Linked DNA regions of Homo sapiens: all the other regions are linked to region 3. Evidence: fine-mapped expression QTL. A gene starts in region 3. Each other region holds a variant in brackets. All regions are shown on one strand. Distances are from middle to middle.

Region 1 (5,226 bases), 41 kb after region 3:
TTATTAAAATAATCGGCACCACCCAGTCAATGACTGGTATTTTATTATTACAGATTTGGCTGCTGTGTTCTGTTCATTGCCTCCTTCAACAACCTTTCAGCACAGTTTGCCTTCACCTCTAACGGGTCACAATTTACCTTTTCTAGGCTACCCATGGGGACCTCAACAGCTTTGCCATTGCACACTATCTTTGCAGACAAGATCTTAATCACATCCAACTTTCTGCAGTTGCACAGGGTACCTCAGACCCACATCCCAGATGACATTCCTCAGAAGCTCGCAGCTGGAGATGACATCACCTTAGACAACATCACCCTAGCCCAAGACATCGCTATTAGAGATACATCACCTGGACACTAAAGCCTCCAACCCAGTGACACTCTCAAGGTGCTGACAAAATGGACATGGACATTTGTTGCTTTTCTTCTTTTGAATTAGGAACTCTATTGTGTTTCCTGAATTTACTGTCTGCTTGGCCCATGATCCTGGTATGTTCCTTGCTCTCTGCCAAAACATGCACCGTCCCCTCCACACCTAAAGGAAAACCTGGTAGAAGCTACTACTCTCAATGCCATTCTAAAATTGACGAAGAGTATTATTTTCCCCAAGAGGCAGCTGCTGCAGGCCAGTGAATCCTCTGGACCCTGGGGAGAGGGTCATACACTCCCTAGTGACTTCTACTGTATGCTCCAGCTTTCCACCAGGACCTCCTGCCCTGTCCCCAACTGTAACGACCACAACCACCCCATCCCCTTGGTTACACACAAATATCACCAGTCTTTACATGTACTTTACTGACTTCTCAGATAATACCCTCCAACAAGATAACTGCAGGACTTGCCACCATGACCTGAGAAATACACCAAGATATTATTGTCCAATTTTTTTGAGATATATATATATTTCTCATACTTTTAACATACTCTGCAATCCACCAAGATATTGGTAGAGACCCTGGAAATTTCAAATCTATTTCGTCTGCTAATGCCATGTGAATGGGAAACTTAGATACAGGCTGGCCTACAAGGACTCCTTATACTTCAATTTTTGTTCCTCCTTTCAACTCTCATAAAAAATATTTTCTGTACTATTTAGGGCAAATGATGGCCTTCTTTCTAAGTCTCATCCATCATTGCTGCAAAGGTGCCTTAGTTTGATGTTAAAGTGTCACAGGGCCAATGTATTGACCATGTTTCTGGCGTCTATAAAGTCGATGTTTTAATATCTGTCCTACATGCATACACCAAACATTCCTTGATCTGGAAAACCCAACAGTATGCTTTGCTTCAGCCTCAGGCCTCCCTTGTCGCCTCCTCTGTGCCACCCCCCATTCCTCGGGAGTCCTCCTCCTCCCAGGGGCGCACTTTTCAAATACAAACCAACCAATCCAGAGCCCACACCCCAACCACCTCCTTTATTGGTCTCTCACATGCTGGGCCACTATCCACTTTCCCTAATCACCCAAAGTCAGGTACCAGACAATTAGGGACAGCCCCTATACCCCAGAGCCTGCTGAAATTAGCAAACTGGCCAATCCCGAGTCTGTTTACTTTGCCTTCCTGTTTCTTCCCAAGGAAATCACAAAAAAAGGCTCTTGTCCACAGCCCCCCTCTCGCTCTGCCTCCTGCTTCCCTGTGCGGCCCTGTGGTGTGGTGCACACCTTCCTCTTGGGAACTGTGTGAAACTATCTCCTAATCCTCTCCGTTGGCCTTAGTATACCTCAAATTTTTTGTATTGATACACTTTTTTTTGTGGGGTTTTTTTTGTTTGTTTGTTTTTTGTTTGTGAGACGGAGTTTCACTCTTGTCTCCCAGGCTGGAGTGCAGTGGTACGATCTTGGCTCACTGCAACCTCTGCCTCCTGGGTTCACCTGTGATTCTCCTGCCTCGGCCTCCCGAGTAGCTGGGATTACAGGCGCACACCACCACGCCTGGTTAATTTTTGTGTTTTTAGTAGAGATGGGGTTTCACCATGTTGGCCAGGCTGGTCTCGAACTCCTGACCTCAAGTGATCTGCCCGCCTCGGCCTCCCAAAGTGCTGGGATTACAGGCGGGAGCCACCATGCCCGGCTGACACACTGTTTTCTTTTAAACAGCTGGGAAACCTCTTATCCTCATCACCAGTGCCAGGGTCCAGCTTCAGGAGGGCAGGGCTCACCTGCTTTACTTCCAGATCACCATGTGCAGCGTGGAGCTTCCCTCTGACGTGTTTGTTGGATTTGTTTCAAAAAGGCGGCCATGGTTTCTTTTTTTCCTTCCTCGGCCCTGATTAATTTCAACAGAAGAAAATGTATCCCCTCTAGTTTGTGATGGAATCCAAGCTTAATTAGCCATTCATGGTGCTAAACTGTCCTGCACTGGATGACCCAATCGCTTCTGATTTTCCAAGCTTGGCTCTCAGACCATCCTGGTGGAAGAAACACTAGCAGTCTGCCCAATCTGAATGCAAATCCAGAATAATCTTTTCTTTTGTTGTTACACAGTTATGAGTGCAATTTTTAAATGGCTGCTACTCTACAGCCTGCCTGCCTTATGCTTTCTCCTGGGCACGCAGGAAAGTGAGAGCTTCCACTCCAAAGCAGAGATCCTAGTGACACTAAGTCAGGTAATAATCTCTCCAGCTGGACCTCATGCACTCACATGGACAACACACTTCTCTCCTTCAGTGATCATCATCCTTGTACCA[T/C]GTTGGTGGCATGCTGTAATCGTGACTCAACATCCGGTTGCCAATTGCTATGTAACAAACCACCTCAACATTCAGTGGCTTGAATTGAAAGCAGGGTCTTGAAGAGATATTTGCACATTTCATCCTCCCAGCAGCATTATTCACAACAGCCAATAGGCAGAAGCAACCCAATGTCCAACCATAGATGAGTGGATAACCAAAATGTAGTCCATCCATACAATGAAATATGATTCAGCCTTAACAAGGAAGGAAGTCCCGCCACGTGCTACAACATGGATGGACCTTGAGGACACTATGCTAAGTGAAGTAAGCCAGGCACAAAAGGACAAATACTCTATGATTCCATTTTATAGGGTACCAAAGAGAATCAAACTCACAGAGATAGAAAGTAGACTGGGGTGGCCAGGGACTCGGGGAGAGAGGAAAGGGCAGTTATTGTTTAAAAGGTACAGAGTTTCAGTTTGGGAAGATGAAAATGTTCTGGAAACGGTTAATGGTGATTTTACATTGTTTATGTTACCACGATTTGTAAAAGAGCAGCTGCGCTGAGAATGAGCATGCTTGTCATTGGCAGCTCTCTGAGATTTTCAGTGCCTCTTACTGGCTTGTTAAGAAGACGGCAGATTCCTCTCCCCGTCTGCTTCTTTCATTATAAAATTCCCATTTCCATTTTGCCTCTAGGTAGAAGCTCACGGAACTCAAATGGGAAATGATGATGGCAGGATTTTCCTGCCGAAAAGAGGTGTCTCAAAAGAAAAACATATTGTATTTAACATGGAGAAATGAAATCCTCCAAAGCGAGCTTTATGAACTGAATTACCCAGAACGGACTTACCTCTATTGTCAGTATTTTTCTGCTGCCCCTTTGGGCTTCTGGTGCCTGGATAACTAAAAGAGCAGGACATCGTGCTGCTTAGTGGGCTTTGCAGTGGGAAGCGGGAACGTCTACCTGCATGAGCACGGGGCACTCTGCCCAGAGCTTGGGCACATTCCCCTAGGCACAGGAGTAAGGAAGAAGTCTCCAGTGTAGGTTAGGAAATAGGCCTTCAGCATGAGCTTACCACAGCTTTTTTAAGGAAAAAATTAGTGGCTTAAAATAATATTCCACTTTTTTTTTTTTGAGATGGAGTCTCACTCCGTTTCCCACGCTGCAGTGCAGTGGTGCAATCTCAGCTCACTGCAAGCTCTGCCTCCTGGGTTCACGCCATTCTCCTGCCTCAGCCTCCCGAGTAGCTGGGACTACAGGTGCCCGCCACCACACCCGGCTAATTTTTTGTATTTTTAGTAGAGACGGGGTTTCACCGTGTTAGCCAGGATGATCTCGATCTCCTGACCTCGTGATCCACCCGCCTCGGCCTCCCAAAGTGCTGGGATTACAGATATTCCACTATTTTTTATCATAATTGTGTGGACTGACTGGATTCAGCTGGGTGATTTGCACTCGGAGTCTCTCGCGTGGCTGCCGTCTTCTGAAGGCTGGACGTCCCACATGGCTTCTTTACTAATACATCTGGTGCTTCAGCTGGGACAGCTGGGACAGCTGGCGGCTGCACAGGCATCTCGCTCTTTGCACACAGGCTCCCCATATGCTTAGTTTGAGCTTGGTGATTTTAAAGTAGTTGAACTTAGATGGCAGCTGGCTTCCCTCAGAGTAAATATGCCAAGATACCCAGGTGGAAGCTGTAAGGTTTCTAATGACCTAGTCTGAGATTTCACACCAAGATGGCTTCCGTCATATTCTGTTGGTCAAAAATAAGCCACACGGTGGGGCATGGTAGCACACACCTGTAACGCCAACACTTTGGGAGGCCAAGAAGGGTGGATCGCTTGAGCCCAGGAGTTCGAGACCAGCCCGGGCAACATGGTGAAACCCCGTCTCTACAAAAGAATACAAAAATTAGCTGGGCATGTTGGCACACCTCTGTGGTCTCAGCTACTTGGGAGGCTGCGGTGGGAGAATCTCCTGAGCCCAGGGAAGTTGAGGTTTCAGTAAGCCATGATCATGCCACTGCACTCCAGTCTGGGTGACAGACTGAGACCCTATCTCAAAAAAAATAAAAGCTACAGGTCAACCCAGATTCAAGGGGATAGGATTACACAAAGTCACAGATTCAGGAAGGTATAATTTATTGGGGAACCGTCTTTGGAGACTAGCTACCACAATCTGTCACCATCTTTTAGATAAGACGATCAACATATTTCTGAGTATACTTTAGATTTCCACTATCAGTGCATTTTCTGAAACTTCCCCAGTCTTAGCACTGAAGGTCCTGCACCCCAGGAAATATCTATCAGTCTTTGTCAAACCAGGATGGTTGGTCACCCTACTTTTAGACCTCCTCATTTTCATGAACTCAATATTGCATAAGGTTGATCTTCCAAAAACATGTATCTGCCTTAAAATTGTGATTTCCATCCTGATGAGGTCTCCTCATATTCCTTTGTCTTTCTGGTTTGTATAGGATCCACTTGACTTCAGAGCTGTAGAAATCCAATAATATGGCAGTGATGATGCATTCTTTTATTGGCCCACAGTTATTA
Region 2 (5,226 bases), 43 kb before region 3:
GTGAAGAAACTGAGGCCCAGAAGGGTCAGGCCACTTGCCCACCATCACACAGCCTGTTGGTGACCTAGCACCTGGGAAGAGAGGGCTACACTCCACTGCTCTATGCACTCTTCCCTTAAGTGGGAAGGCAAGGAGGGGACCAATGGCCTGTGGTGTCCAGCCCATCCTGGCATCCCATGGGCCTGTGATTCTCTGCAAGTGAGAGTGGTGGGGCAGCATGGCAGAACGGGTGGTTCCAGCCTGCCCAGTGGCTCTGGATTTAGGCTATTTTCAAGTCAACGCTAAACTTACCAGGGAATTCTGATGGTCTACAAGCTTTCTGCATCTGTAAGAGCTGGACCAGCCCACCGAGCTCTCTCAATACTAACTAGCATTTAAAAATAAATACCTTCACTATTTGGCAACAGGGGAATCCTCTCCTATCACAGGAATCCTCTCCCTCTTCCCTAGGGAACGTTCTGACAGCATGTCTGTCTGAAGAAGCAAACGAATGTCTGCTTTGGTGAAAATGACATTGAATGATTTCAACCCTGGTTTAAAACTTACTTTTTTGGCAAGATAAGAGACTAGCATTTCAAAATTTAAAATCTGTTTTATGACCTTTAGAGTCACAAGCACTTAAATGGCTAATAAATGGTTTAATACAGGTATTAGAATAAAAGCTAAGATCTAATGTATTTAACATTAATTCTTATTTTCTTAAATTTTATATACTAAAACTGGGTAAATTATATACATATATATGTCTATCACCTGTATGAAACACACTGCATAGGACAACTAGACAGAGGATCAACAAGGAAATAGAAGACTGGAACAACATTTTAAACCACCTAGACGTAACACACCTATACAACCCTTCATCCAATAACAGCAGAGGGCATATGCTTCTCAAGTGCACCTGGGACATTCTCGAGGATAGACCATATGTTAGGCAATAAAACAAGTCTTAAAAGTTTAAAATGATTAAAATCATACAAAGTATGTCCTCCAGCCTCAATGGAATGCAATGAGATATCAATAACAAAGAAATGTGGAGAATTCAAAAATATGCGGAAATTAAACCACATTCCTAAATAACAAATGGGTCAAACAAGAAACCACAAGAGAAATTAGAAAATACTTTGAGATGAATGAAGATGAAGACACAACATAACCAAATTTATGTAATAAATTATATAATAAAACATCTATATGAGAAAAGTAGATGCCAAATCAATAACCTAATCTTCTACCTTAAGAAACTAGAAATAAAGAACCGCAAACTAAACCCATAGCAAGTAGAAGGAAAGAAATGAAGATTAGGGCAGGAGTAAGTAAAATGAAGTACAGAAAAACAGTAGAGAAAAATCTATGAAACCTAAAGTCATTTCTTTGAAAAGATCAACAAAATTGACAAATTTTAGTTAGACTGACCAAGGACATAAGAGACTATTCAAATCACCGAAATCAGAAATGAAAAGGGGGGACACTACTACCAACCTTAGAGAAATAAAAAGAACTATAAGAGAGTGCTGAGGAATCGTATCCCAACAAATTAGATTAGCTAAATGAAATGGACAAATTCCTAGAAAGACACAAACTTGAAATTGACTCAAGAAGAAAGAAAAAACTAAAATAGACAAAAAGATTGAATCTGCTGTCAAAAAACTTTCTACGAAGAAAAGCCCAGCACTAGATGGCTTCACTCATAAATTCTGTCAAATGTTTAAAAAGGAATCAATGCCAATCCTTCACAAACTCTTCCACAAAATAAGAGGAGTGAATGCTTCCTTACCTCTATAAGGCTAGTGTTGCCCTAATACCAAAACCAGACAAAGACATCACAAGGAAACTATAGACCATATAGACTATATATTTATGTTAACATTCCTTATTAATACAAATGCAGATATTCTCAATGAAGTAATCTGACAACATATAAAACTTATATGTACACCATTACCAAGTAGGTTGTGGTGAACTGCAAATGTGCCACTGCACTCTAGCCTGGGTGACAGGGCAAGACCCTGTCACAAAAAAAAAAAAAAAAAAAAAAAGATGCTCAATGTCAGCCACTATGGAAATGCAAATCAAACTACAGTAAGACATCACTTTATCCCACTAGAATGACTATAACAAGAAAATACCAAAAACTGAACTAATACGTTCAGTTATAATAACAATAACAAATGTTGATGAACATGTGAAAAAATTGAAATCCTCACACATTTGCTGGTGAAAATGTCAACTGGTACAGCCACAGTAGAAAACTGCTTGATAGTTCCTCAAACTGGCATAAGGATGAAGTTAAACTTCTTAAGGAACTCTTAAGCCTTGCAATTCTACGTCTAGTATATATCCAAGAGAATTAAAGATAGGTACTCAAATACTTGTATGTGAATGTTCATAGCAGCATTATTCATAATAGCCACCAAATATTCACCAACTGGAGAAAGGATAAACAATGAATTGGCATATCCAATGGAATGTTATCTGGCAATACAGATGAATGAATGAGGTATTGATACATGCTACAGTGTGGTTGAACCTTGAAAACATTAC[G/A]CTAAGTGAAAGAAGCCAGATGCAAAAGGCCACATATTGTATGATTCCATTTATATAAAATGCCAAGGATTGGTAAATCCATAGAAACAGAAAATAGATTCGTGGTTTCCAGGGACAGGGGGTGACATGGGGCAACCGGAGTGGGGAGCGGCAGGTACAGGTTTTTATTTGGGGGGTATGAAAATGTTCTGGAATTAAATAATGGTAATGTTCACACAACCTTGTAAATATCCTTTAAAAATTGAATTGTTTGCCTCTTAAAATGGTTAATTTTATGTTGTTTCAATTATGTCTCAATTTTTTGAACGTGTGTGTATATTATATATATAATCCTCTAAACTAACATAAGGAGACTATGGAAAAATACTTAACTGATCCGAAATGTGCAAGAAAGATGTGAAAAAGCAACATAGACTGGCAGGACAAATAATAGCACATAGAAAATATGGTATATTTTATCTCAAAATATTAACAAACACATTAAATAAAAATAGACTAAATTCTTGTGTGAAAGCTAAATATTTTCAGGCTGTATTCAAAATATATTGACCTAGATATACATATATGCTGTTGACAAGAAAAGAAAACGCATCGGAAACTGAAAAGTTGAACGTAAAAAGGTAGAAAATATATACTGTGCAAACAATAACCAAACAAAAACTGGTGTAGCTATGCTAATATCAAAATATCTATTAAAGCAAAAAGCATGGTAGGAAAAAGTTTTTCATAATGACAGCAGACTAAGTTCTATTGAAAGATATATAGTTCTAAATTTGCGTGTACCTTGTTACTTATCCTCAGAGAAGAAGAAGAAAAGGAAGAACAAGAAGGGAGGAGAAGGAGGAGAAGGAGAAGGAGGAGGAGGAGGAGAAGGAGGAGAAGGAGGAGAAGGAGAAGGAGGAGGAGAGAAGGAGAAGGAAGTGCGTTCAGCAGCTTCTAAACTGGCTCCCAGTGATCCCGACCTCTTGCTCTTCACATCTGTGTATGATGTACGGCTAGACCTGGTGACTCGCTTCTAACAAACAGAACATGGCAAAAGCAGTCACTTCTGAAATCTGGCTGTAAAAGACTGTGACTTGTGGCTGGTGCACACATGTTCTCTTTTTGCCTCCTCTGGCTGGCTTACTATGGGAGAGTCCAGCTGCCATGCTGGGAAGTACCCATAGGACAGGCCCATGAGCCAAGGGACCGAGGGCGACCTCCCACCAACATCAAGTGAGGAGCTGAGTCCTGCCAGTGCCCACAGGAGCGGGCTTGAGAGAGAATCCTTTCCCAGTCCAGCCTGGTTCACCCTTTAAACCGCAGCCCTGGAGAGACCTCTAGACAGAGGATCTGGCTAAGCTACATCTGGATTTTTTGTTCCAGAAAGTGTGAGTTTGGGGGTAATTTGCTATTCAACAGTAGACGACTAATACAACCAGGGTGGTCATTCTCACAGCTCACTTTTGATAAATATACAGATAGATAGATAGATAGATAGATAGATAGATAGATAGATAGATAGAGATAAATACAAACAGACATTGATATAGATGGGGTCTCAGACAAAATTTTCATCTTCACGTCCTGTAACAGCTTGCTAAAATAGTCTATTCTCTGCATTTAAATGTCCCTTTATGTGGGATTGGATGTACAAATGATCTTATGCCCATACTGTGCAACTCTTTAAGAGAACATGTAGCAATGATGGTGATGAATATTTATTACTGTCTTAGATGAGAATTACAATCAGCCCTATTTTTCAAATGAGAACTCTGAGACCAAAAGAGGTTATATAATTTACGTAAGGTCACCCCCCCCAGTAAGGGCTGGAACAGAGATTTCATAGCAACCAAACCACACCCAAGAACAGCATTCTCTCCTTTTTCATCCTTTGCGCTCTATAGACCCCAGGGTAATGGTGTGTCGTGGGCTCTTGGCCTTTCTCTGTCTTTCTTTCTTTTTTTTTTTTTTTTTTTGAGACAGAGTCTCGCTCTGTCACCCAGGCTGGAGTGCAGTGGCGCGATCTCGGCTCACTACAAGCTCTGCCTCCCGGGTTCATGCCATTCTCCTGCCTCAGCCTCCTGAGCAGTTAGGACTACAGGCGCCCACCACCACGCCCAGCTAATTTTTTGTATTTTTAGTAGAGACGGGGTTTCACCGTGTTAGCCAGGATGGTCTCGATCTCCTGATCTCGTGATCCACCCGCCTCGGCCTCCCAAAGTGCTGGGATTACAGGCATGAGCCACCACGCCCAGCCTGGGCTTTCTCTTTCTATGACAATAAGTAAATGTGACATTTCTTGCCCCTTGAATTTTAGAAGCAATTTGTAGACTTGTCATATGTATGTTATTATAGGTATTTTTGCTAGCCACGCTGTCACTGTCAAGCTCCTGGGTGAAATAAAATTAGGTAAGTTTTTAGACAAAGCCTTGGTATATAAACTTTTGCTACTCACTGTCTTCAACTCAGGAATGCAATTCATTTGGAATGTGTGCCATCACTCCTGATGCAAGCTTGGTGCCTGACACTCATTATCCCCAGCAGGAACTTCTTGGTGATTTCCACGGTGAGGGACAGTCATGTCAGCACAGAAAAGACACCAAACTTTCGGTTTGATCATCACTAATTACCTCTAGTGGGTGTGATTATGAGAAACTTTTACTTTTCAAATAAATTGGGGAAATGTTTTCATTGTTACAA
Region 3 (5,226 bases):
AGCCATTGTCCACGTAATTCACAGAGTGGTGTCAGGCCTTGAAATAGATGAAAGGAATAACGGTGATGAGACCAGACAAGATGCCCAGCTCATAAGTCGCCCCAGCAGTGTCAGAATGAGAGGAGCTACTGGTAACTAGAGTTCTTCATATCTTCACTGGAGAGGACACACATGGGGGCTACCACAAGATAAGCATGTGGCCACTGTACAGGTGAGTTATGTAGTGTGGGTGGAATCCCTAAAGGCCCTCTGAAATAGTTTCAAACAAATGGCTCCCAGGAATCAACTGAAACAAACCAGTCCAACCCAGCAGATATGGGTGGAAATGGGGTGAGTAGAGGAGGGGTTATGGCTACAAAATCTAAGCAGAAGACACTGGACCCCAACAAGCACTTTGCTCTGTGAACAGTAGCTGTGGCTGTATCGGGAGACCAACCCTCTGAGACAGCTGCTGTGGGACTGCTGACAGCATAGTGTCTTTGCAGCCACATCTTCAACAGCAGTGCATCTGAACACAGACTGCAAGTCTCTCCTCTCCATTAATCCTCATTTTAAGGGGACGGATACTGTCATGTTACAACATCCCCATCCAACACTTGTGGCCAATTGCAATCAGAAACCACCACCTAAAGAGGGTACAAGAAAGAACAGGATGAGAATGCGGGGGAGAACGCGTGTGCACCTGACCACACAGACTATACCACAGGCCCTGTTTGAAACAAAACAACAGCCCTAGCATCGTGATGTGGTCTCCCTACCCTTCCTCATCCAGCCTTGTTCACAGCCATTTCAGGTTTTTCTTACCTTTCTTTATAAAGGTACTGATGAATTCAGGTGTAATTAATTCATGAAGAGGTAAATTCTTCACAAAGTAATAGGGTCCAGTGTTCATGACCAGGTTTTTCAGTTCTTCCGATAGTATCCCACATTCAGGAATGAGAAATGAAACCTATTGGAATGTGTAATACAAACAAGGTCTTACTTCCATGAAGATGAACACCCAGGTTTTTAGGAATGAAACAAAATCATGAAAGTTGTTATTTCTCCACGAGTTTCACTGGAACATAAAAACACGGGCAACAAAACTCTTATGTTAACTTACCTATCTCAGGCAAAGAGAAATCTGACTACTTAAGTTTTTCATTTCTGCATTCAAACGTACAGTACAGGAAGGGGATTGAACAGAATACTTTTAATGGAAAACTCGTGCTTGCATTTAATCTTTTGCAAATTAGCAATGCTGTATATTTTATGTCCTGTTCCTTTCACTATTTTATTTTCAAGGAAATATAGTATAATTGAATATCCCTTGATTTGTTTACCCTGGTGTTATCCTGGAATGAAACAAACTATCTGTCGGGGCATAAGGAATTAATTTATGGACATCCAATTACTAAGAATCTATGTGCAAGCAATGGTGCTCCTGTATGTTTTCATTTTCGAGACAGAAAAATGCAACAGGCGAGTTAAAGTATACATCCCTGACTGCTGTGATGAGCTTGACATCCAAAATAGGTGTTAAAAACAGGGCAGGCTTCAAATGTTGCCACATTGTAAAAGTCATCACTGTCCCAAGGCTCAAACACCAGCCTGTTCTGACTGATCAGGTCACCACTTAACATCTCTGAAACACTGCTCAGTCAAACCTGAGTTATTAAGCTGATCCATTTAAAGTGTAAAATGTTTAATCCCCCATGATAAGGTTAGTTTCTTGAAGTCTCTCAGATATCAAATTAGTTCCAACAACCAATTTAGAAAATCAGTCGCTTCGGCCGGGCGCGGTGGCTCACGCCTGTAATCCCAGCACTTTGGGAGGCCGAGACGGGCGGATCACGAGGTCAGGAGATCGAGACCATCCTGGCTAACACGGTGAAACCTCGTCTCTACTAAAAATACAAAAATTAGCCGGGCGTGGTGGCGCGCGCCTGTAGACCCAGCTACACGGGAGGCTGAGGCAGGAGAATGGCGTGAACCCGGGAGGCGGAGCCTGCAGTGAGCCGAGATCGCGCCACTGCACTCCAGCCTGGGCGACAGAGCGAAACTCCGTCTAAAAAAAAAAAAAAAAAAAAAAGGAAAATCAGTCGCTTCCTGGGCCGAGCCTAGGCAGGATGCTCTGGTGAGATCCACAGGTACGCAGGTGGGAGAGGGATTCAAGCTGGGGAGGAGGCAGTGGTGGGGAGGAGGCGCGAGACCCGCCCTGATTTGGGGAAAAAGCGAGGTGCACGTGGCTGCCCCACAGCCTAACTCCCTGGTCCCGGCCCTGAACCTCGAATCCCTCCCTGGACTCACTCCCAGTTCGGCGGGTTGACACGAGTGAGCAGCCAGAACGCCCCTGACAACAGCTCCCTCCAGACTGGGTACCGCCCCCACGCCCGGCGCATCCTGGGAGTTGTAGTCCTGTAGCCCTGCAAGCCACTGGCTTAGAGCAGTTAAGAGACTACAACTCCCAGCAAGCCGGGCGAGGGCCCCGCCCCTCCGCGTACCGCCGGCGGCCCCGCCCCGCGAAGCCTAGCACTCTCCCCAAACCTCTCTCGCACGCGGGGACTGAGCACGGCCCGAAAAGCCGAGGACAGCCGGACTCACCCTGTAGTTATAGTAGTGCGTCTGCACAAGATGCCGGTGGCGCGACTTGTGGTTGCCGAAGTTGGATTTCTCGCAAACCAGTAAGTGCCGCGGCGCCTCCCGAAGCCGGCGCAGCGTGGCCATGCTCTCCTGGGTTCCTGGTCCTCCCGGCCTCCGCTGGCGGGGCACGCCCCGCCCCTTCCTCCCGCCCCGCCCCTTCCCTCCGGCCGCATACCCGCTGCTGTGCGCCCCTGGCGGCGGTGGAGTGGGGATGGCGGCGCTGGATTTCTGAGCAGTTCTTAGACTTCTTAGGAGCCCACGCAGCCGCTCTTTGGTGGATGTCTGAAGCTGTAAATTCACTGTCCCAGTGGCTGGGAACCTGGCTCTTGCCTTTTCAACGCCACTTTTCCTCCGTCCCCGCCATCCCTTGGAATTGCCCTAAACCCTCTCTGTGGGCCCCGCCTCGGAGCGCCCCTTGGACCCCAGCCTGGCGCCGGCGCATACCTCGGTCAGGCCCCTCAGAGGGACCGCTTCCTGCCACCGTTATAAAAGGAAAACATCGCATGGAAAGGCCCAGTTCCTTTAGTATATGGTCAAGAAATGTAGCCGCACAGTTAAGTAACCCCCTAAGCTGCTTTGGGGGCCACACCCAGCTGCTTTCTGACTTCTCACACTGTTTGGTTCACAGGACTCTGTTACCCATTGGGGACCTCTTGGCCATTATTAACACAGGCCAACAGGACTAAAAGTTTGTATCAGTCCTTCCCAAAACATTAGGGAAGGTTGTGCGGGAAGGTAAAGCACAATTTTTGCCTTACAATAGGACTCCTTTGAAACTACTATTGAGTTCCCTTTTAAATAGCCCTTCAGAACCGCTTTTAATAATGTGTTGTTTCTGGGGGTTAATAGTGATAATTCTCCTAAGTCATTTTTCCATTTCGTTTTTCTGTCACGGGCTTGGAGCGGTTAAGAGACTGCGGCTCCCAGCATGCGGTACGTTACTGATCAGGGCAAAATCAAGTATGTTACTACATGCTTCTCAAACTAGAGAGGCACAGCCCCAATTCTGCACTGGCAGGATACAAAACAGCAGAATATTGGTGATACATCTTCCTGGAACATCAGTTTTTCTATGAGATGTGGAAGAAATGGAATTAAGTAGTTTACAAGGTAAATAATTAAGAATTTAAAACTAAGCCAGTCACAGTGGGTCATGCCTGTAATCCCAGCACTTTGGGAGGCTGAGGTGGGAGGATCACTTGAGCTTAGGAGTTCAAGACCAGCCTGGGCAATATAGTGAGACCCCATCTCCAAAAATAAAAATAAAACTAAGACAAGGCTGGAAAGTCATCTGCCATTATAAACATCAGTAATCTGGCCGAGCACAGTGGCTCACGCCTGTAGTCCCAGCACTTTGGGAGGCTGAGGTGGGAGGATCACTTGAACTCAGAAGTTCACGACCACCCTGGACAATATAGTAAGACCCCATCTCAAAAAAAAAAATTAAAACTAAGACAAGGCCGGAAAGTCATCTGCCACTAAAAACATCGGTAATCTGGCTGAGTGCTGTGGCTCACGCCTGTAGTCCCAGCAATTTGGGAGGCCGAGGCGAGCAGATCGCCTGAGGTCAGGAGTTCAAGACCACCCTGGCCAACATGGTGAAACGCTTTCTACTAAAAATACAAAAATTAACAGGGTGTGGTGGCGCATGCCTGTAATCCCAGCTACTCAAGAGGCTGAGGCAGAAGAATCACTCGAACCTGGGAGGCAGAGGTTGCAGTGAGTCAAGATCTCGCCACTGCACTTCTAGGCTGGGCGACAGAGTGAGACTCTGTCTCAAAAAAAAAAAAAAAGTCAAAATGTAATCTATGACTGAAATGTCACATTTTCTTTCCAAGGAAAAACCTAATGAGAACCTGTTTCCCATTATTTTAAACAGCAGAATTATAAGGCGTGGCAAGTTAATTAAAAAAAACCCTACTAATTTCCTAGATCACAATATGGCAGCTAGATGTTTTATAAATAACAGCTACTAATAACATGTTAAGATGTAAAAGGCTTAAAGCATTGCTTCTTGGTCACCTCATATTTAATGTAATTGTCACCAGACAGTTGCTTTGTGTGTGGTAGCAGTGGCCCAAGACTGAAACATCACGGATGTACCTCTCCTTTGTCGACATTCCAAAACTCCACAAAGTGACTGGTGTGATCCTGATGGTCTACCAATTGTATTTGGAAGCACCGTGAAGCTTTTCCAGCAAACCATTTAGTTTAAAATGTTGCATATTTTGAAGATGCAAAATAAATTCTATCTATGTAAATATCAGCTGAAAAATGTATTGAGAGATATAAACTGCCCTCTTCTCAAGAGAGACCCCACAGAGTCTTGCAGCTTTAAGTCCTCCTCTCTGGCTGCTGATAACCCCTAGATGTGGCGCCTCTTCCCTGAGCGGAGTATCCAGATGACTCTAGTACAAGGACTCACCCCTGACTTCTTCCCTTCTCACCCGCCATGCAATCCCACAGTAAGTCTTGTGGCCCTGCCTGCAGCACGCATCCTGATTGCAGCCTCTTCTTGCTCTCTGCGTTTCTACAGCCAGTTTCAGCCACCTTCGTCACTTACTGGCCTGCTGCCCAAGACTGCCTCCAAACCTTCTCCTTGCT

What was found. PIP is the estimated chance that this variant, and not a neighbour inherited with it, causes the effect.
Region 1: its variant is the best candidate, but not a certain one, in a credible set for the expression of RPP40 in testis (GTEx, PIP 0.61).
Region 2: its variant is the best candidate, but not a certain one, in a credible set for the expression of RPP40 in T cells (TOPMed, PIP 0.54).

The regions. Positions count from the first base shown.
Region 1 is chr6:5,042,360-5,047,585 of GRCh38, forward strand. The region is part of intron 2 of LYRM4-AS1 (LYRM4 antisense RNA 1); the gene reads left to right. It also overlaps a transcript of LYRM4 not described here. Among named protein-coding and RNA genes, the nearest start is that of PPP1R3G, 40 kb to the right of the region's middle. RefSeq lists an enhancer at 2,263-3,462. The variant T/C (reference allele first, on the strand shown) is at 2,686.
Region 2 is chr6:4,957,956-4,963,181 of GRCh38, forward strand. No RefSeq gene overlaps it. Among named protein-coding and RNA genes, the nearest start is that of LYRM4-AS1, 43 kb to the right of the region's middle. The variant G/A (reference allele first, on the strand shown) is at 2,545.
Region 3 is chr6:5,001,297-5,006,522 of GRCh38, forward strand. It overlaps RPP40 (ribonuclease P/MRP subunit p40), which reads right to left and starts at 2,741. Exons shown (of 8, transcript NM_006638.4): 1 at 2,584-2,741; 2 at 805-949. The coding sequence starts at 2,706. It overlaps LYRM4-AS1 (LYRM4 antisense RNA 1), which reads left to right and starts at 2,520. Exons shown (of 4, transcript NR_126015.1): 1 at 2,520-2,663. RefSeq lists silencers at 2,342-2,591, 2,722-2,851.